7 separate regions of the Homo sapiens genome follow, and all the other regions are reported to be linked to region 5. Evidence: microRNA targets listed by miRTarBase, many of them from high-throughput screens and not tested one by one. Region 5 holds a microRNA gene; each other region holds the end of a gene's coding sequence.

The links. The annotated mature microRNA hsa-miR-3927-3p reads CAGGUAGAUAUUUGAUAGGCAU and lies in region 5 at 1,713-1,734, shown strand. An mRNA with a match to its seed (bases 2 to 7 or 8) in the 3' UTR can be bound and repressed. Matches are read on the target gene's strand: a 7mer-m8 pairs with bases 2 to 8, a 7mer-A1 pairs with bases 2 to 7 and ends in A, and an 8mer does both.
Region 1: the mRNA of MED10 is a reported target of hsa-miR-3927-3p. Seed matches in the 3' UTR shown: 8mer at 2,573-2,580.
Region 2: miRTarBase lists DNAH9 as a target of hsa-miR-3927-3p. The part of its 3' UTR that is shown has no 7-base or 8-base seed match.
Region 3: the mRNA of YAE1 is a reported target of hsa-miR-3927-3p. The part of its 3' UTR that is shown has no 7-base or 8-base seed match.
Region 4: the mRNA of GABPB1 is a reported target of hsa-miR-3927-3p. The part of its 3' UTR that is shown has no 7-base or 8-base seed match.
Region 6: the mRNA of DYNLL1 is a reported target of hsa-miR-3927-3p. The part of its 3' UTR that is shown has no 7-base or 8-base seed match.
Region 7: miRTarBase lists ZNF562 as a target of hsa-miR-3927-3p. Seed matches in the 3' UTR shown: 7mer-m8 at 842-848.

Annotation. Positions count from the first base shown.
Region 1 is chr5:6,369,585-6,372,661 of GRCh38, forward strand. MED10 (mediator complex subunit 10) reads right to left here. Exons shown (of 4, transcript NM_032286.3): 4 at 2,290-3,017. The coding sequence ends at 2,919. Among named protein-coding and RNA genes, the nearest start is that of MED10, 7.4 kb to the right of the region's middle.
Region 2 is chr17:11,969,124-11,972,193 of GRCh38, reverse strand. DNAH9 (dynein axonemal heavy chain 9) reads right to left here. Exons shown (of 69, transcript NM_001372.4): 69 at 2,446-2,894. The coding sequence ends at 2,667. Among named protein-coding and RNA genes, the nearest start is that of ZNF18, 27 kb to the left of the region's middle.
Region 3 is chr7:39,572,290-39,575,372 of GRCh38, forward strand. It overlaps YAE1 (YAE1 maturation factor of ABCE1), which reads left to right. Exons shown (of 3, transcript NM_020192.5): 3 at 1-592. The coding sequence ends at 417. Among named protein-coding and RNA genes, the nearest start is that of YAE1, 7.4 kb to the left of the region's middle. RefSeq lists a silencer at 2,468-2,668.
Region 4 is chr15:50,275,791-50,278,873 of GRCh38, forward strand. It overlaps GABPB1 (GA binding protein transcription factor subunit beta 1), which reads right to left. Exons shown (of 9, transcript NM_016654.5): 9 at 1-2,994. The coding sequence ends at 2,842. Among named protein-coding and RNA genes, the nearest start is that of HDC, 12 kb to the left of the region's middle.
Region 5 is chr9:109,510,131-109,513,213 of GRCh38, reverse strand. MIR3927 (microRNA 3927) reads left to right here and starts at 1,669; the gene lies at 1,669-1,739. It also overlaps a transcript of PTPN3 not described here.
Region 6 is chr12:120,497,973-120,501,051 of GRCh38, forward strand. DYNLL1 (dynein light chain LC8-type 1) reads left to right here. Exons shown (of 3, transcript NM_003746.3): 3 at 101-521. The coding sequence ends at 238. Among named protein-coding and RNA genes, the nearest start is that of DYNLL1, 3.4 kb to the left of the region's middle.
Region 7 is chr19:9,650,495-9,653,577 of GRCh38, forward strand. ZNF562 (zinc finger protein 562) reads right to left here. Exons shown (of 6, transcript NM_001130031.2): 6 at 1-3,083. The coding sequence ends at 2,455. Among named protein-coding and RNA genes, the nearest start is that of ZNF562, 23 kb to the right of the region's middle.

The DNA of each region.
Region 1 (3,077 bases), not on the chromosome of region 5:
AATTTTCGCTTTTTCATTCTGACCCACAGAGGCAGCACAGATTATCTAGAACAGTGACACAGGCTCAGGCCCTGTTTGAGTCCATACCTGCCTCGTGGTGGTTCAGCGGTGTCCTTGGGCATAACAAAAATCAGTAGGCCCTGGGGCTGTTTGCCCGATCTGTGTCTGCAGGAAGAAAGGGGTGGGGAAGAAGAGGTCAGAAGCAAAGCAGGGATTGGAACGAACTGGGTGGCAATGGGCAGGGGTGATGTGAAGCAGCTGATCGAAATGGCTGATACCGTCCCAGGATGACTCTCGCAATCATTCTTTTAACCAAAATGAGGTCTTTGAGAAGAAGGGATGAAGGGCCAGCCAGGTGTGTGCACCTGAACCCAAGCTCCTCCGGGTGGAGAGCTCTGGAAGGCAGTGTCAGTGACAGTCACAGCATGCCTCGCCGAGTGTCAAACGCGGCCTGGAACCCTCCAGTCCTCTCACACTGACATCAATTCCGAGCTAAGTAGATTCCTCAGCATTTCAGGAGATTTGAAAGTGATGGGCACTTGTGACTAACAGTAATGGCAGGTGGGGTGGAATTAAGGGGCATGTGGCCTGTCACAGTGTCGAGGGGCTCCAACACCTCTTCATTGCCTGGGGACCCACTGTGGTGGTGTCATCAGACACACTGATGAAAGTTAGGAGTTCCAAGGCAGTGCATCCATATACCCAAACTTTTACTCAAAAAAAGACTGGTGAATATTCCAGAATAATGTGTGACAGCTACACCGCCCCTGCTGGGCCTAGGTCAGCAGACTTGTCATGCTGTGGGCTACCAGATACGCATCTCTAGCTGACAGTCACCCTCTCTTCCCAAGGCTCAGACATCAAGATTAAAACAGCTTGAGGCCACCCGATTAACTCAGTCCCAGGATATGTAGAACAGCCCCTACTGCCGGCACATCCTCCATGTTTCAGAGCCCAGGAAGAGGGGACTGTGGACACTTTGGACCCACCCAGAACCAGCACAGAGGGAGGCGAAGCTGCAGGGCTTCGGGCACGTTAAGCCCTGGTGCCCCAGCTTCAACATCAGTAATATAAAGAAAGCCGGACCTCACAGGGCTGGTGAGGGCCAGGTGAGTTGATGCAGGTGAAGTGTGTGGGAAGAGCCCAGCGAGCCGCGTGCCCACATGGCCCTCGTGCAGCAGCCAATAGTCAGCATCCTGATGCCAGAAAAACAAGGCGGAACAGCGATTCAGGCACCCGAACCTGCCAGCAGGGGCCTCCTCTACTCTAGCAGAAATTCTTCCCCTTGGTAGCAGTAGGAGTCCTTTTCTGGTGCTGTTTTGGAGAGAACAGAACTGCTAGCGAGGGACCAGCTTCCTAAGGGGCCTGGCCCCTGACTCTTGGTAAATACGACCCTCCTGGGGAGTATTCTGGACTGAGTTGCATCCCTCCAAAACTCCAGTGTCAAAGCCCTAACCTCAGGACCTGAGAATGCAACTGTATTTGGAGACAGGTTCTTCAAAGAAGTAAGTTAAAAATGGGTCCTTCGGGTGGGTCCTAATACCATCTAACTGCTGTTCTTAGATTCTAAAGAGGTTAGGACACACAGAAGAGACACCAGGGCTGTGACACACACAGAGGAACGACCACGTGAGGTCAAAGTAAGCAGGTCTGCAAGCCAGGGAGGCCTCGGGAGAAACCCACTCTGCAGGCACCGTGAGCTTGTACTTCCAGCCTCCAGAACTGTGGGAAAATACATGTTTGTTGTTCAAACCACCCAGAATGTGGTGTTTTATTCCGGCAGCCCTGGCTAGGATCGAGGCTGGTTCAGGATCGCTCGTAGGAGGCAAATTAACACAGATTCCCAGGGCCCATCCTAAAGCCTGAGGCTCAACACGTCTGAACTGGGGCCCTACCTTAATAACAAGCCTGCCCAGGCCATTCGGACACAGGGGTCTATAGGTCAACCTCCGCACAGGCCGCACTAGGGCCTCAACTCCAAGGGTGGCCCACAGATCACAGAAACAGCACCACCTGCAGTTCATGAAAAATGCAGTTTGCAAGGCCCAACGGACGTGTGAATCCGAACCTGCAGGTTCACAGAATCCCCTCAGGATCTGTAAGCACACTGAAGCTGAAACAGCCCTGCCGGGCGTCTTTCCAGAGTGTCAATAAATTGGTGTACTATAGCCGCTAGGAAAGGTTTGTAGAAAAAATTGGAGTTCTGCATTTTGCTTTAGCTTTTCCTGCCTAAATGCCTGGAAAACAAATTTTCTTATGAATATTACCAACCCTCTGGGAAAGTAATAATTAACTGTTTACAAGACACATTGTATTATATTACAAAAATAATTACATGGAATAAGCCACATACTTAGTTTATTATAGGCATGTCTAATTGAAATCCATGAAAACAGTTACATTTAAAACATTCTTTATGCACTATACTTGAAAATGTAAAATATAATACCACTTAAGTACTTCCCACATTAAACTGATTTTTCTTTTTTTAAAAAAATTTTTCCTAGTCGTTATTTAGCTTTCGGACACCATAATACAATAGAACAGAAAGAGTATGTTAAAAGAAAAATATTAGGTAGAATGTTGTAAAACTTTTAATTTACCCATCATATTTAACATTTCCAAGACTATTTTCCTGCGCCTCATCTGCCCTCAGAGAGAATGATCCCCACAGTGATGAGGGGTCAGCACTCTGAAAGCCAGTTGACGCCAGACAAGCTGCTGGAACAGCTGGGGCACAGCTCCGCCTCTCCTCCAGCCCCTCGGTCCCATGAGGCCAAACAATGAGGACAGAGGGGCTGAGGGGTGTGTCCAGGGCCCAGTCCCACCTCAGCAGGAAGGTGGCGTCAGCACTCGCAGTCCCAGCCTCACGCCGCATCGCAGTCCCAGGGGATCTTCACACAGGGAGGGTGAGCTGGTTAAGAAGGCGGGTGATCCTCCCCCCGGATGCTTCGATACTTAGCCATGTCTTCCGGAAATACTTTAGAAAGTTCTTGAATCAACAGGCTTTTAAATTTCTACAAAGAAAATACATTATCAAAGGAGCTCTTCACATCAACACTCCAATAACTATTTAA
Region 2 (3,070 bases), not on the chromosome of region 5:
CAAATTTCATGTGCGTCCGTGTGAAGAGACCACCAAACAGGCTTTGTGTGAGCAACATGGTTGTTTATTTCACCTGGGTGCAGGTGGGCTGAGTCCGAAAAGAGAGTCAGCAAAGGGAGATAGGGGTGGGGCCGTTTTATAGGATTTGGGAAGGTAATGGAAAATTACAGTCAAAGGGGGTTGTTCTCTGGTGGGCAGGGGCGGGGGTCACAAGGTGCTCAGTGGGGGAGCTTCTGAGCCAGGAGAAGGAAATTCCCAGGGTTAATCATTCAGTTAAGTTGGGGCAGGAACAAATCACAATGGTGGAATGTCATCAGTTAAGGCGGGGCAGGGCCTTTTCACTTCTTTTGTGATTCTTCAGTTACTTCAGGCCATCTGGGCGTATAGGTGCAAGTCACAGGAGATGCGATGGCTTGGCTTGGGCTCAGAGGCCTGACAGTGAGACTTCCCCCTCCCACCATCTTCCACCTCCCACCATCTTCCACCTCCTTCTTTAGGCCTGATTTTTTTTTTTTTTTTTTTTTTTTGGTGAGACAGAGTCTTGCTTTGTCGCCAGGCTGGAATGCAGTGGTGCAGTGGCGTGATTTCGGCTCACTGCAACCTCCGACTCCCTGGTTCAAGCAATTCTCCTGCCTCAGCCTCCCGAGTAGCTGGGATTACAGGCACGCACCACCAAACTCAGCTAATTTTTGTATTAGTAGAGACGGGGTTTCACCATGTTGGCCAGGATGGTCTTGATCTCCTGACCTTGTCATCCGCCTGCCTCAGCCTCCCAAATTGCTGGGATTACAGGCATGAGCCGCTGTGCCCGGCCTGCCTGATGTTATTATACTACTATGGGTGAGGCTCAGGAAGGATGATGCTAATGTGGACAGAGTTATCTCCCTGAAAACAGATTAACCTATAGTCAGGAAACTGCAAGTGCATTACTAGTTGATGGGAGAGGAGGGACAACACCCAAGCTGGAGGTCCTGGCTTCCAGCAGTAAAATTTATTAACTCCCTTGTATCATGAAGATGAGAAGGCCCCACTTAGGGGGTGCAGGAACTGCAAGGAAGAAAGCAGGAAAATCATAGAGGAATTAGCATCAGATTCCATATTCTATATAGCAGAGATTTATAGGATGATGGGATTTGAGGTTTTAAATCACGAGTTCTCAAACTGGCCTCCAGACCAGCAGCATTGGCAATTTGTTTAAACTTACTGAATCAGAAATATTGAAGGGCGGGTCCCAGTAATCTTTGTTTTAACAAGCCCTCCAGGGGATTCTGATGCCTGTTCAAGTTTAAGAACCACTGTTCAAAACAGTAATCACAAAATTAAGTTTCTGCAAGGTTAGGAGGGAATAATCACAGAAGGAATACTGGGTCCTCCCATACTTTTCTTACCAAACAAGCTGCCTCATAGAGCTTTTTAAAACTCATCAAAACTGTTAAACCCATTGGACTTCCAGTGAAAATTTGTTCCACGGAGGTAAATCTAGAAAACTTTTAGATTAAAAAGCTTTAGAATGGCCAGGCGCGGTGGCTCACGCCTGTAATCCCAGCACTTTGGGAGGCTGAGGCAGGCACATCACCTGAGGTCAGGAGTTCAAGATCAGCCTGACCAACATGGTGGAACCCTGTCTCTACCAAAAATATAAAAATTAGCCAGGCATGTTGGCAGGCGCCTGTAATCCCAGCTAGTTGGGAGGCTGAGGCAGGAGAATCGCTTGAACCCAGGAGGTAGAGGTTGCAGTGAGCAGAGATTGCCCCAGTGCACTCCACCCTGGGTGACAGAGCGAGACTCCATCTCAAAAAAAAAAAAAAGGCTTTACAGTAAAGATTTCTTCTTGGCTTCCTCTTAAATGATCGAAAGGATGATGGAGATACTTCCTGTTTGCTTGTTCACATTGTATCCACAACAAATAGTAGGTGTCAGATTAAAATGTATTGAGTGGATGCATGAATTAATGAAGGATAAATATCAGTATACACATCCCTTATCCTCTACAGCAGGGATCAGCAAAATATGGCCCATTGCTTGTTTTTGTAAATAAAATTTGTTAGAATGCAATCACACCCCTTCATTTACTCATCATTTATGGTTACTGTTGGTCTACCACGGCAAAGTTGCAAAGTTCAAACAGAGGCATTGTGGCCTGTAAATCACTAAAAGTATTCACTAACTGGCTCTTTATGGAAAAATGTTGGTGACCCCTGCTCCAGGATAGTGTTTCTCAAACTATAATGTGCATACAGATTTTCCAGAGAGATTGTTAAAATGGAGATTCTGGTTCATGGGTGATGCCAATACCACTGGTCCAAGGACTGCGTGGGGTAGCCTGGAAGAAGAGCACCTAGGATAGTGTTGTGTAACAAGGTCAGGGCCCTTGTGGTTTGTTTCTCTTGGTCTCTACATGATCATTTATGATTCAGCAGCTCTCAAATCCTGGGCCAGACACAGTTGAAGAGTAAATCATTTTATTAAGAAACCTGGGCCCACATTCCTTCAGCTCAGCCTCACCTTAGGCACACCTCTCCAAGTTCCCTAGAGGAATTCTACAGAATTGTGAGTGCTCATGGTTTCTTACCGTTCTAAGTGTCTGTGGTGACCCTTCACCCACCTGTCCCTCTAGGCAGCCTCCAAGCCCAGCTTTTTTATTTTCTCGGTGGCTCTGCAGGATGCTAAATCTGGAGAAGCAAGGCTACTCCAGCCAGAACCCACTTGGATGGGTTTTCCTTAGTCTTCAGGTTGAAAGTCCACACGTAGGTGGGTCCCCGCTGACTAGTCTTGTACACAGGACAGGAATAGACACTGCGGCAGTCCTGCTTATCTGCAGGAATGGCCTTGATGAACATCACAGGCATAGGGGGTGTCAGATCCTTCAGCTTTGCCTCTGTAATGATCCCAGCCTGAGGATAAAACATGAGAAGAGGCACCTTAGATCAGACCCAGAGCCCAGCCAACCAGCCTTGCTCTTGTCAGCAGATCCAAGGGAGGAAAGACTGGACTGACATGGCTGCCTTTATGCCTGCCCCCTTCCAGGTTTTCTCAGCAGCCTTTGATGGAATGCATCTGATATGTAGAA
Region 3 (3,083 bases), not on the chromosome of region 5:
TGGTGTCACCTTCATAATAATAATTCAACTTTGATCAATAAAATAAACAATCTTCTGGATGCAGTTGGCCAGTGTGAAGAGTATGTGCTCAAACATCTGAAATCAATCACTCCACCGTCCCATGTTGTAGATTTATTGGACTCCATTGAGGATATGGACCTTTGTCATGTAGTTCCAGCTGAGAAAAAGATTGATGAAGCTAAAGATGAAAGACTCTGTGAAAATAATGCTGAGTTTAACAAAAACTGTAGCAAGAGCCATAGTGGGATAGATTGTTCATATGTAGAATGTTGTAGAACACAGGAGCATGCACATTCAGAAAACCCAAGCCCCACATGGATTTTGGAACAGACAGCCAGTTTAGTTAAACAGCTGGGCCTATCAGTAGATGTATTACAACACCTCAAACAACTATAAAATTACCTTCCCTTTTCTAATGAAAATAATGTTCAGAACATTTGGTTTCCTAACAATCGAAATTTGTACTGGTTTCTGCATCAAACACCTCAACTGTAGGGTTACCCTTTATGGAAGTTTGAAATTAACACTATTGTCTTCAAAATTAACACTATTAAATGTAATATAAGCCTTTTTTCTTTGTCACTGGTAATTTTTATGTAGTTTTAAGATATGGTCAGAAATTTCTACTGTCATTGACATTTCCAAACTTGTGGTCAAAATGAAGTGTTTTCAGACTCATTAGCAAAAGTGAACAAGAATTAAACATATTTTGTAAGGACCTACCCCTACTTCTACCTCCTGTCACTATTAGGTGGTCAGGACCTCACCAAACCAAAGTTATAAAAATAACTTAATAGTTAACGTAAATATAGACACACAGACAGATATATAGATATAGATATGTAGATATATATTGAAATTAAGAGACTGTGAGAAACTGAAGCAGTGTTTATGCTGTTGATTAAATGGTTAACAGCAAAATACTAAAATGTGTTTTAGTTTTGTGTTAATTAAAAGTAAGGACATTCAGTTTTATGAAAAACATAGAAAATATATTTTATGCTAAAGTCTAAGGAAAATGCCTACTTAGTTTTTCTAAGTAGTAAGGAGTTAGTAATATTGCCTAACAGTGTGCCAGATTATTTTAAACTGCAGTATATTTCATATTCACATAGGAGTAAAACACTGAAACCACTGACTTCTATATTACCTTGAGGTAATATTCTTAGTCTAGCATGGACAAAATTAGATTCAAATTTTTACTCCAGGATCTAAACTCAGAATCAGGAGAGGATTTCTCAGCACTTTTATTCACCTGAAACACAAGTTTATATGAGATACCTGACTTCAAAGGCACTGAAATAATTGTCCCTCATTGGTAGCCTTAATTGCTCTTTCACCCCTATTTATACCTACCATCTAAGCTGAAAGACAGGCATATTGAGATGAAGAATCTGACAAAGTATATCTTTTCAAGAGATTAAAAATGTACACTGTACTATGACCCTCCTCAAAGTTCACAGAAGAACATTAAGAAATTGAAGCAACAGATTTAAAATCAGAAAGCCATATTGAGTTTCAGGATTTATTAAAACCCCCGCTGAAGATACCAGTGCCATTTGACAGCTGGCTAAAAAAAGCTCTTCGATCTCTCCAGGTGTGAAGACTGTTTTTCAGAGATTTACTAGTTTGTCTTGTTAATATATGTTTCCATGTTTATGGACACAGCCCAAATCTCAACTCCACATGGAATATGGGTATTATAAGCAGCCTCTAAAGTCTTTTTAATGTTGCTGTGCCGTGCATATACATATGAAATACCTCTAAGGATGCATCTCAAGGCCACCCTAAGTAAAAATGTCATGGGTGTGGTAAATCTTGAGATTTTTATCTAGGCTTTTCCTGATAAGATTCCCTGAAGATAACACCCATTGCCACCATTGGCTACATATGGTGTGTTTGTACAGATTTTTGTCGAAAATGAAATCAGGAGAATTAGCTAGTTGAGACTATTGGATTGAAAACATCTCTCGAACTTGTTTTGCCTTTTAAAAAGTACAGAAGGGGCCAGGCACAGTGGCTCACACCTGTAATCTCAACACTTTGGGAGGTGAAGACAGGAGGATCACTTGAGTCCAAGAGTTCAAGACCAGGCTGGGCAACATAGTGAGACTTTGTCTCTAGTAAAATGAAAAAAATCCGCTGGGTGCAGTGGCTCATGCCTGTAATCCTAACACTCTGGGAGGCCAAAGCAGGTGGATTGCCTGACCTCAGGAGTTCAAGACCAGCCTGGGCAACATGGTGAAACCCCGTCTCTGCTAAAATACAAAAAATGAGCCAGGCATGGTGGTGCATGCCTGTAATCCCAGCTACTGGGGAGGCTGAGGCACAAGGATTGCTTGAGCCTAGGAAGCGGAGGTTGCAGTGAGCCAAGATTGTGCCACTACTCTCCAGCCTGGGTGACAGAGCAAGACTCTGTCTCCAAAAAAAAAAAAAAAAAAAAAATCCGACAGCCATGGTGTTAAGTCCCTGTAGTCTTCGCTACTTGGGAAGCTGAGCTGGGAGGATCACTTGAGTGCAGAAGGTTGAGGCTGCAGTGAGATAAGATCACCCCACTCTACTTCAGCCTGAGTAACAGAGCAATACCCTGTCTCTAAAAACATGAAATACAGAAGTTCCTGGACTGCAGAGGAATGTTAATGGCATGCTGATTCTACCTGTGTTCCATGAACATGAGCCTCTGTACTAGAACCAAGAATGAAGGGAAAGAGCTTACTGGCCTTGGGTCTCTTGCCTTGCCTCACATGTTGTAGGTCTGCCAGGTCTTCCCATGAGAATACCCTGCATGAGCATAAATGAAAAATGGTAAAGCAAGATTGCCCCAGAGCTGGCACAGCCAGAGTTTCAAGGCCCAGAACCCAGACATTAGACTGAGTGGTGTGGCTTCCTTAGAAACAAATTTCATCTAAAATAAGTTACTTCTGGGTGCTAATATATCTGAGGTTTTTAAAAAGGGTGATAAGGAAGCCCACAGAACCACACTTTTCTGACATTTTAGTTACTAGAACTGCTGAGGCCACCAAAAATGTTGTGATATGTAAAGGGAGTGGGCAGCTGAATGC
Region 4 (3,083 bases), not on the chromosome of region 5:
AAATAAAATAAATAACAATAAATGAAAATTAGTTGAGAAGCACAGTCCCTGCAGATACTACTTCTCAGATGAGGCTTTCTGAAAGCATCACAGATTCAGTCTAGAATTTATAATTCTAGAGGTCCAGGGACTATACAGAGGGAAGTGTTAAATCTGAATAAAGTAATTGGGCAGTCAAGATGCCTAACGAACTCAGTGTCTGGATAGTACGTAACAAGAACGATTCTAGGTGCACAGGAAAGAAAATAATTCATTACACCATAACACTAAATGGCTTGTCTTGCAGAACCCTGGTTGAGAAAGGTTGCTCCAGGTGTTTGTTCACACATATGTGGAAACAATTAACCAGTGATGTGGCAACCAGATGACTGCTAACTACAAATCCATCACTATGTAGTGGAAACAATTATGTGGATTTCTGAAAACTTTTATTTCATATACTTTTATTTTTGTCAGTTCTTTAAATCCTCTGTTCAGAGCACTATTGAGAATGACTAGAATGCAAAGCTTTTACAGCCCACCTGAAAACAGCATGAAATAAGTGAAGGGAAGAAGACACCCATTTTAAGTTTTAATTACAAATTCTTGTCTAAGTAGTGATTTTACAGAACAGTAAATCAGATGTAAATGATTGAGAAATTATGTTATGTAACAATGACTCTGAAAAAGGTGAGCTTCCTCCACAGATACCTGAGTACCTGATGCTATCATAGACTTACTCCTTTTAAGCACCAATTATTTTCTCCCATCTATGCCAGCTGTTGTTATTAGGAATCAAAATTATTTCTTGCACCAGGTAAAGTCTCCAGCAGGAGAGGAGACTGGAAGTCAAAGACGACATTAAGTTAGCTTTCACAAACTTGTTCCCAACACTGTCTTGAGTCTTTTCAGGGCCAGCCTGGTCTGAAAGCAAAACTCTACAGTGATTGCCCTCTGGGGTGAAGACACTGGCCCTTCTCTGCTCCAGCACCACATGTCAGGGTACCTGGCTGTGGTACCAGCACCCTGCCTAACATGACAAATTAATGTACCGAAGTAACCAGAAACAACATTCTCTATTGACTTTTCAGGACTGCAGAAAAAGTCACTTCATGCTATTGAAAATATGGCCTGGCATTTTTAAAAACTAGTTTTTGGATCACTTAAAATATGTCAAATTTAGTGGAAAATTGAAAAAGATCTTTTTCCTCTTCCTTACAGAGTTCTTCAATTTGCCCTAAACTCTTTTTTAAGTGCTTCCAATAGTAACCATCAGGCTGACAGACCATAGACCCCTTTATTACATTAACAAATATACTGGTAATTCCAGTGAAAGAGTTAACAAATTCTCAAGAGTTACCTCAGGAATTTTAAAGTCATGTTGTGGAGAGTATAAAATATTTTCATATGGTGGCTCAAATATGCAGTAGGATAACATTTTTAATGTGTTAATAAGATGTGATAAAAACATAAGTCTACAATGAACATATGTGAAAAAGATATTTAATTGCAAAATAGAAAAGTAGGCCAGAGTACAGTTTTAAGGGTAATTGCTTTTTTATACAGTATAGATAACCTAGAGGGATTTCAGGGTTAAACAGTTCATAAAGCAATAAAACACTGAAAAATAAAGCAAGAAAAAGGGGTTTGAAGTAATATTTTACCAAAAAAAAAAAAGAAAAAGTGAACAGTCTGCCAGTGTTTAATGTCCATACATTGTGGAATTCAACAATATTGTGATGAGAGCAAGTCATAGCACAGACACTGAGCTTTCAAAAGGAAAAGTAGAAGTTACATTAGACATGTCTATTGCATCACTGTAATACAAAAAGTTCCTGTTCTACATACAAAAGCAATTTTTTTCCGTAAGAATCATTTCCTGGGGAGAAATAAGTCCATAAAATATTTCAGAAACCCATATGCATTGGGTTTTCCAAAAACATTATCTTAAAATCAGTGCCTTAAAGTGCTTTCATGTGGAAATCATGATGGAAGGCACAGAATACAGTTTCACGTCCCCACTCTTAAATTTTCAAAAAAGCACAGATTTTGCAGAATTGGCAAATTCAAGTTATCTTGTAGGCTGCTCCTTCCGAGAACACTGTCATTCCAATAAAACCAGCTGCCAGCTTACTTCGTTTCAATGACCTACAGAGTAAAGGGGTTTTGTTTTTGTTTTTTTCTGGTCACTTTCATCATTTCTGTGGGAGAAATACCTATGTAAGTGATGCATTTTGAAATTATAAAACATGCAGAATATGTACAAACAGAAATTTTTAAAAATATTTGCTTCATATACATGTAAATCTACTTGGGTATAGCTGAAATTGAACAAATATAAAAATTTTGCTTTCTAAAAAATGTTTTCAGAGAATCTGACACAACTTAAAGCTGTACAAAGATTTCCTGGGAGAAATCTTCTCTTCATACAGAGGTTTATACCTACAGGAGTAATTCCAGCATCAGTCCACCATAATTATTACACAACATTTGGCCTAACCAACAACGATCACCCTTAAAACTGTTCCGTTTCTGAGAAATTAAGGTTTGTACTAAAATCAAAAAGAATTCACAAAAACAGTGGCTTATTCTGGTTTTGGATCTCTTCAACAATCTTTATCAACTCATTTGGAACTGTAAAAAAAAAAAAACTATTTACAGAATTCAGTTTTAAATACATTTCACAACTTCTAAAGTAAAGTTTTATGTTACAAGAACTCAGAGCTCATGGCTTAAGTCCAATTATCCATCTGTAGTCTCTTCTATCATTCTGTATTCCCATGGCTGTACCTTTGTTGTGTACAGTTCAAGATTGTATTCTTTCTTGACCAAAAGTAAAATCAAACTACATGTTCATTTCAATTAAACAGCTTCTTTATTAGTCTGAAGACGAGTCATAGCTTCCAACTTCTGTCTGTAGGCCTCTGCTTCCTGTTCTTTCTTTAGGAGCTGCTGTCGATATTTTTGTGCTTCTCGATTTGCTTCATCCAGCTGTTTCTGAAGAGCTTCTCTCTCCTAATTAAAAGAAGAGGGTTTTTTTTTTAATTTTTGCAAAAATACATTATTAATACATATAAGCATGCATCCTTCAAATTAAAAAAAAA
Region 5 (3,083 bases):
ACTTTGTCTCTACTAAAAAAAAAAGAAATTTAAGATAAATTAGCCAGATGTGGTACACATACCTGTAGTCCCAGCTACTCAGGAGTCTGAGGTGGGAGAATTGCTTAGACCCAGGAGGTTGAGGCTGCAGTGAGCCGTGTTTGTGCCACTGCACCCCAGTCTGGGCAACAGAGTGAGACCCTGTTTCAATAATAATTAATGAATTAAGAACATTTCAGATATAATACACAGCTTGAGCCAGGGCTAGTCAAAGATGTGAACCAGCCTACTGCATTAGTGTTTTGGAAGGGCTGACACTTAGGGGCAGGAGGAGGGAGGGAAAAGGACCAGGGGAAGGAAAGAACAAGGTAATGCAGGGTTCAGAGCACACAGTGCTTTAAACACCATGTGCAGGAATAAGAAATGTGTCCACGGTTTCCCTTCTCTGAAACATTTTGTGTAGGAGGTCCCAAAGGCCTGTCTCTCCCTGATTAAGGAGGAACAAGGTACCTCCTAAAGAACCCTGAATAATTACCTAAAAATAGATAAACAATTTTAATCTCCTTTATGTCATACTTATGATTAAAGTCTTAAAAATCCTGTGCTTGGTGTTTCCGGTTTCAATGTGTGGTCACACACCTTACCTCATGTAGTCTTCATGGCATTCAGGAAGCAGGTGTTACCAAATTTTGTTTGACAGATGAGACACTGAGATTTAGGAGTCCCTAACAAACATTTCTTGACGTAAAAATGAAAGCTGTCTTTTAAAAAGCTTTAAAGATTAGTGTGATAATGTTTAACTGAGTAGGTGTGTGTTCTTCTCAGGAGTGAGAAAAGTGTGTTTGGCTGCCAGATGGCTTTTGGAGACTTGTGTTGGTTAGGCCAGCAAAAATGCCCTCCAATCTGTGGACCAGCTGCACCAGCTGCACCCAGGAGCTTCTTAATAATGTAGAGTGTGAGTCTCCCCCTCCAGAGGTTTTCAGATTTGGTAGGTCAGGGGTGAGAATCTGGAAGGAATATCGTTAAAAAGCTCCTCAGGTAATTCTGATGCACGGCCAGGTGGAAGATTGGTCAATTGCCTCTTTTGGTTGCAAGGATAATTTGAGGCCCTGATGATAAAAATGTGGTCTGCAAGCCACCTGTCTCAGCATCACTCAGATGCAGTTTCCTGGACCTCGCCCTACCAAATTAGACCTACCAAATTAGAAATCTCCAGAGGTGGGCATATTTTAAACAAACTCCCAAGATCCATTTGTTCATTTATTTACAAATATTTCTTCAGGTCTAGGTATGTGATAAACACCATTCCAGGAACTGGGATATAAAGGCAAATGAGGCCAACAATGTCTCTCCCCTAAAGACACTTGAATTTTGACCCAGCTCTTTGAATGCTGGAGTTTGAGAACCACTATCTTAAAATAATACAGGGATTCAACCAAAGTTCCTATTGGGACTGCCTCAGTTATCCATTGCTGGTAACAAAACACTGCTAAAACTTAGTGGCTGAAAATGACAATGATTTTTCCCGTCCTCATGATGCAATGTGTTGGCTGGTTGATTCTCCTACAGGTCTGCTCTGGGTTCGACTGAGATAAACCTGGCCTGGCTGGGCCCCTCTCCATGAAGTTGTTCATCTCAGGCTTCTTAGGGCATGGTGGTTTCAGGTTTCCAAGAGGGCCAACCCCAATATGCCAATGCCTATCACATATCTGCCTGTCCTATGACAAACATGGCAGGTAGATATTTGATAGGCATTGGCACACTGGCAAAACGAAGTCCTATGGCCATGCTCAGCCTCAGCATGAAAGGGGAATTCACAGGAGTGTAGACACCAGAGAGTCACTTCTTTGGGGATCACTGCATTCTGTCAAAGTTACTGTGGCTGCCCCTTGAACCTGGCATCTCTTTGTGTATCTTCTCACTTCCCCACTGTTCTCTAGTTTAAACTCCTAGGTGAAGGAATCCAATTGGTCTTGCTAAGCACGTCCATGGCTCACAGTCACCCCTACTCATGGGGATTTTAGGACTCAGCAGGATTGCAAGCAGAGCTGGTGTAAAGGAGATGAGAAGGACACTAGGGGTATCTTAAGCACCATGGCTGAACCTCCCATAGGATAGTCATAAAATTCCCATGGTCAGTGCTTTAATCACCTTGATATAAAAATATGCCCCTAAATATTTTATGTATTTGTTGCTGGGAGCAAAGTTAAAGTTTTGTGTTTGATATTGATTACATGGATTTTTTTAATGTTTCTTTTTGATTTTTGGAATAACACATATATGTTGTAGAAGTTTTAAAAATACAAAAACGAAAATTAAAATCACTAGTCATAGCATTATCTAGAAAAACCTTTTAGCACATTTGCTTTCACATTTTTGCTCATAAATGTGTTCTTCTTTACAGAATTAGGCCAGCAATACAGCTTTCTGTCTTACACTCTTTGAATGCTGGAGTTTGAGAACCACTATCTTAAAATAATGCAGTGATTCAACAGGAGTTGAATCACTAGCATTATCACTAGTGCTAGCATTTTCCCACGTGATTACAATCTCCTCGTAAAATAATTTTGAGTTATATAACAATCAGTGAGACATACTATTTCATAATCATACAGTTGCTTGTTTCATATATATATATATATATATATATATATATATTTTTTTTTTTTTTTTTTTAAGACAAAGTTTCGCTCTTGTTGCCCAGGCTGGAGTGCAATGGCGCAATCTCGGCTCAATGCAACCTCTGCCTCCGGGGTTCAAGGGATTCTCCTGCCTCAGCCTCCTGAGTAGCTGGAATTACAGGCATGCACCACCACACCTGGCTAATTTTGTAGTTTTAGTAGAGACAGGGTTTCTCCATGTTGGTCAGGCTGGTCTCGAATTCCCGACCTCAGGTGATCTGCCCGCCTTGGCCTCCCAAAGTGCTAGGATTACAAGTGTGAGCCACCACGCCCAGCTGTTACATATTTTTTGGCAATTATCAGCAGTGCTATAATGACTCATTTCTGTTCATAAGCCTTTATCTGCATTTGGATTTTTCCATTGAATAGATGGGGTTCATATCTTTTCTTTATATAGCACAGTTTTTAAGATTACTTCAATGT
Region 6 (3,079 bases), not on the chromosome of region 5:
ACGTTCCTCCTTTCTGCCCCTACAGGCTCTGGCTTATCCAAGAGGCAAACACTGACCTCTGGTAATTAAAATCCTAGTTCTTTTCTTTTGTCTTTTCCAGGAATTTGACAAGAAGTACAATCCCACCTGGCATTGCATCGTGGGGAGGAACTTCGGTAGTTATGTGACACATGAAACCAAACACTTCATCTACTTCTACCTGGGCCAAGTGGCCATTCTTCTGTTCAAATCTGGTTAAAAGCATGGACTGTGCCACACACCCAGTGATCCATCCAAAAACAAGGACTGCAGCCTAAATTCCAAATACCAGAGACTGAAATTTTCAGCCTTGCTAAGGGAACATCTCGATGTTTGAACCTTTGTTGTGTTTTGTACAGGGCATTCTCTGTACTAGTTTGTCGTGGTTATAAAACAATTAGCAGAATAGCCTACATTTGTATTTATTTTCTATTCCATACTTCTGCCCACGTTGTTTTCTCTCAAAATCCATTCCTTTAAAAAATAAATCTGATGCAGATGTGTATGTGTGTGAATTACAATTTGTTCAAATAACAGCGTTGAAGACGGTCACTTGATCAGATGCCCAGGTTGGTGGGGATGAGTCCATCCTTACAGAAGTTAAGTTTCTGTGGGGTATTTCAGTACTCTTTAGTCACATTCTCTCACCCATCCTGCAACTGTTGTGCATGTTGAGAAATGCAGTGCATGATAAAGAAACATTTAAATTAAATCTTTAGTCCTAATCTGAAAAAAATCAATGTTTAAGGATATTTGTTAAGACATTGCTATAGAATGTTCTGGGCCTTTGGCCTCAGGTTGTGGTGATGGATGTGTATGTAGTAGTACTTGAAGCTTTCTATGGCTATAAAATGGAAATAAGCTCAAAACAAAGTTGGGATAATGAAATGGATTCCAGGACCCTTGTCTAGCCCCCTCCCCTGCCTAGAAAGAAGGTGGCCTTAGGGGAAAGTAAATGTTTCTGAGCAGCAGTTTTCATGCTCTTCTAATAATGTAAATTCCTGCAAAGACTTTATCAGCCTGCTGTGCTGTGCTTTGCTGTGGTCAGGAACAAGTGTGAATTGATACCTTTTCCTGAAAAGACCCAATTAAAGCTGGGGACAAGTAGCTATCAGAGGTTTCCTGCTATCAATTTTAAGAGGACTGCAGTCGTAGAAAAGCAAATATGGCAGACTTGTAGGTGGAAAGGAAATAAGACAGGCTGGAACAACCCACACCCATCTTGGGAAACTGCAAGAAGGGTCCTGACTTGTAGTTAGCCTATGTTTTCCCATGGATCTCTAAGATGCCATTGGGATTTCTAAGCAGCTAGGTGACTGCTACACAGAAGAGGGCGATAGATTGGAATTGATGGGTGATAACTCCCATTGTAAGAGTAGAATTAGGTCAGTAACATATTTGGAAGTTTATTTTTCTTCAGAATGTGTGGTTTTAAGAATCCTAGCAAAGTTGTGCTACTTTAGGATTGGAAGGGTTTCAGGGTAGAGGTGCAAGATTTTGACTTTTTTAAGACAGAGTTTCGCTCTTGTTGCCCAAGCTGGAGTGCAATGGCGTGATCTCAGCTCACTGCAACCTCTGCCTCCTGGGTTCAAGCAAGTCTCCTGCCTCAGCTTCCCAAGTAGCTGGGATTACAGGCATGTGCCACCATGCCCGGCTAATTTTGTATTCTTAGTAGAGATGGGGTTTCACCATATTGGTCAGGCTAGTCTCGAACTCCTGACCTCAGGTAATCTGCCCACTTCTGCCTCCCAAAGTGCTGGGATTACAGGCGTGAGCCACCAAACCTGGCAATTTTGACTATTGTGCCAGTTTTTTCCCTGCTGTCTGCAAAAAAGGATGAGGTACTGTGGAATAAACAGGAGACTGCAACTGGGGTAATTTTATGTTTGTATTTATATAAACAGACCGAAAATGTTCCTTTTTTCTAACTTTCATTTTTTTTGAGACTCCTATTGCCCAGGCTGGAGTGCAGTGGTGTGATCATAGCCCACTGCAACTTCAACCTCCTGGGCCCAAGTGATCCTGCCACCTCAGCCTCCAAAGTAACTGGGACCATAAGTACATGCCACCATGCCTAGCTAACTTTTGAATTTTTTGTAGAGCTGGAGTCTCCCTGTGTTGCCCAGGCTGGTCTTGAATTCCTGGGCTCAAGCAATCCTCCCAAGGTGTTGGGATTACAGGTACGAGCCACCACACCCGGTTTAATTCATATTTTTTCTTTTTTTTTTTTTTTTGAGACGGAGTCTCACTGTCGCCCAGGCTGGAGTACAGTGGCGCGATCTCGGCTCACTGAAAGCTCCGCCTCCCAGGTTCACACCATTCTCCTTCCTCAGCCTCCCGAGTAGCTGGGACTACAGGCACCCACCACCACGCAAGGCTAATTTTTTTTGTACTTTTAGTAGAGACGGTTTCACCATGTTAGCCAGGATGGTCTCGATCTCCTGACCTCGTGATCTGCCCACCTCGGCCTCCCAAAGTGCTGGGATTACAGGTGTGAGCCACCGAACCTGGCCTAACTCATATTTTTTCTATCCCTTTTCCCTCTTTAGTGACCTGGCTATATTTCTATTTGAAGCCCACAGGGAATTTGGCCTCCAAAGCTTTAGTTTGTCCAGTTAAGCCCTACTCAGAACGGATGATCTGTCTCTAGCTACAGACCCAAAAGCTGATTCAAGACTGATAGCTAGACACTGGGAGTTTTAGTTGAATATGATCTGTCCCATATTTACTGTCAAGTTGGCAGCTTTTTTGTTTTTTTATTCAGATGTGAGAAAACCATGTTGCTATGGAGATAAGACTGGGTTGATGGTTTATGAAGCTCCTTCCAGTGCCTGTTCCTTCCTGTTAATTTCAAAAGCCAATAGGCTCCAGCTGGCTGAAAAGAAAATGTAAGCTAAGTTTTTCTAAGCATTTATCAAATGCTCTTAGCTGCTGTTCTTTGAGAGAGTTGTATATAGCTAGCTCTATCTAGAAGCTTTTTAGTGACAGGGCAAGATCTTGTAAGTGAAGGCACGTAAATGATCCTTACTGTGCTGGGTCAGGAAGCAGCGTATCTGAAGCC
Region 7 (3,083 bases), not on the chromosome of region 5:
GGCGGGGAGGGGGGAGACCGACCGACCTATTTGTTGGTCTCCATCGTGTGAAAACATGAGGAAGTGGGCACTTACATGCCAGGAAGAGAGCTCTCACTAGAGGTTGACCATGCTGGCACTCTGATCTCAGACTTCCAGCCTCCAGATATGTGAGAATATAAATTTGTGTTTTGGGCCAGATACGGTGGCTCAGGCCTGTAATCCCAGCACTTTGGGAGGCCAAGGCAGGTGGATCACCAAAGGTCAGATCTGACCAACATGGAGATCAGCCTAACCAACATGGAGAAACCCTGTCTCTACTAAAAATACAAACTTAGCTAAGGTTTGTGGTGCATGCCAATAATCCCAGCTACTGAGGGTGAGGCAGGAGAATCACTGGAACTCAGGAGGTGGAGGTTGCGGTGAGCCAAGATCATACCATTGCACTCCAGCCTGGGCAACAAGAGCAAAACTCCATCTCAAAAAAAAAAAAAAAAAAAAAAAAAAAATCCTGTGTTTTTAACCTCATTGATTTAAAATTAAATTAATTTCTAAGCCATTTGGTCTGCGGTATTCTCTTATGGTTGTCTGAGCTGACTAAGGCAGATATTGGTACTGAGAAGTGAGGTACTGCAATTAAAAACAAACAAAAAAACTAAAAATGTGAAGCAGCTTTGAAACTGACAAATGAGTAGAGGCTGGAAAAATTCTGATGTGCAAGCTGGAAATAAGGTTGGTAAGGGTTATTCTGGTGAGGTGTCATTGGGGAATGAGGAACATGCTATTGGGAAATGAAGAAAAGACAACCCTTGATATAAAGTGGTGAAGAACTTGGCAGAACTGTATTCTAGCATTTTACGGAAGGTAGAGCTTGAGACAGATAAAATGGTATGTATCACTAAGATCTGTAATTAAAGTGTTAAAGGACACAGGAAGCTTCATTATTCCTGAGTGCTTACAGGAAAATGTGCTGGGAACAGGCCCCCCAAATCTGGCCATAAACAGGCAATGAGAAACTGGCCATAAACAAAATCTCTGCAGCACTGTGACATGCTCGTGATGGCTATGACGCCCATGCTGGAGGCTGCTGGTTTACCAGAATGAGGGCAAGCAACACCTGGCCCACCCAGGGCAGAAAACTGGAAAACTGCTCAAGGCATTCCTAAACCACAAACAATAGCATGAGTGATTTGTGCCTTAAGGACATATTCCTGTTGCAGATAACAAGCCAGAGCCTGTCCCTTTCTTTCTCATAAGGAATACTTATAGCTGATCTACAATCTATAGGAATAATGTTTATCACAGGCTTACTGTCAATAAATATGTGGGTCAAACTCTGTTCAAGCTCAGCTCTGAAGGCTGTGAGCCCCGATTCCCACTCTGCACTATATTTCTGTGTCTTTGTCTTAATTCCTCTAGAGCCACTGGGTTAGGGTCTCCACGACCCAGCTGGTCTCGGCAAAAATGCAAAAGGAGACCTGAATTGCAGAAGAAATTGTTAAGGAAAAAGGAACCAGAACTTGGAGATTTGGAAAATTCTCAGCCTATCCATACTGCAAAAATTAGAAAACTTGTACTGAAGAGAATCCTCAAAGTGTGGCTGAACAATCATTTGATAAAGAGATCATGAGTGGGATTCATGGACTATATCAGCCATCTTAACAGAAGTGAGAAGAGAGACTGGATTATACTATAAGAGACACTGCCACTTACATTGTGCCACCTAAAATGGACAGAGAAGACAGAACAGAACAGTCAAGGTTGTCACACTTCTTATTTTACAAGAAGGGGACATAGAAATAATCAGCTGTGAAAGGGCACTGGCAGTTATGGATGGTTTCACTCCTGACATGCTCTGCAGGATCCATGGGAACAGAAGAGAACCTTGGAGGAGCATCTTTTTAACAATCCACCTCTGGGGCCTACATCATCTTGGCTTCTGGTAAATTTTGACATGAATGTGCCACACTGGCAGCCACTAACCAACAGGGGCTGGGATCAATCTGCATGATTTATCTCGTACAGAACTTGTTAATGCTATGATCTTAGGAATCTAATCACCAAGGTGAGGCAGCCTGCAGTACTGACCTCACCATCCATGACCCTTCTTCACAGATGCCCAGACTCAGGTAACCATGATGTTGTATTCAGAACCTGTAGGTTTAATTTCAGACCCTCGGGATGCATCTAAGGCCAATCTGTGAGCCATTACAACCTCCAAAAGGCATTTAGGACTAATCTGATGATCTTTGCACTGCCAATAATTAAAGATGGCAACCAATGGGCTAAATGGTAACAACACTCATATCCTTACATTCATAGTATTTCTCCCCAGTGTGAATTCTTTCATGCATACTTAGGCATGAGGAAAGAGCAAATGCTTTCCCAAATTCTTTACATACAAAAGGTTTCTCTCTGGTAGGAGTTCACAGGTGGGGTGAGGAATACAGAAATTCTTTCCCACATATCTTGCATTTACCTTTCTCCACTGTGAGTTTTCAAATGTTTACTACGATGGGAAGAAGTAATGAAGGTCTTCCCACATTCAACACATTCATAAGGCTTCTCTCCTGTGTGAATTCTTCTATGTTGAGTAAGCGTTGAAGATCTATTGAAGGCTTTCCCACATTCCTTACACTGATAGGGTTTCTCTCCAGTGTGATTTCGTATGTGTATAGCAAGGCCCGTGTACTGAGTGAAGGCTTGGCCACATTCCTTACATTCATAGGGTTTTATTCCAGTGTGAGTTCTTACATGTTGAGTAAGGTGAGTTGATCTAGTGAAGGCTTTCCCACATTCCGTACATTTGTGTGGTTTTATTCCAGTGTGAATTTGAATGTGAACATTAAAGGATGAGGAATTTCTAAAGGATCTTCCACATTCTTTACATTCAAAGGACTTCTCTCCTTTATGAGTTTTTGCATGTGCAGAAAGTTGAGAAAAATTAGTGAAGGATTTCCCACAGTTCTTAGTCTTTTCGGATTTCTTTCCAGTATGAACTGCTACACACTGCTTTAAGTGTGAGGAAGTTGTGATGGCTCTCTCACATTCCTGAAATTCACAGAGTTTCTCTCCAATGTGGATTCCCATGTGATTATCAAGGC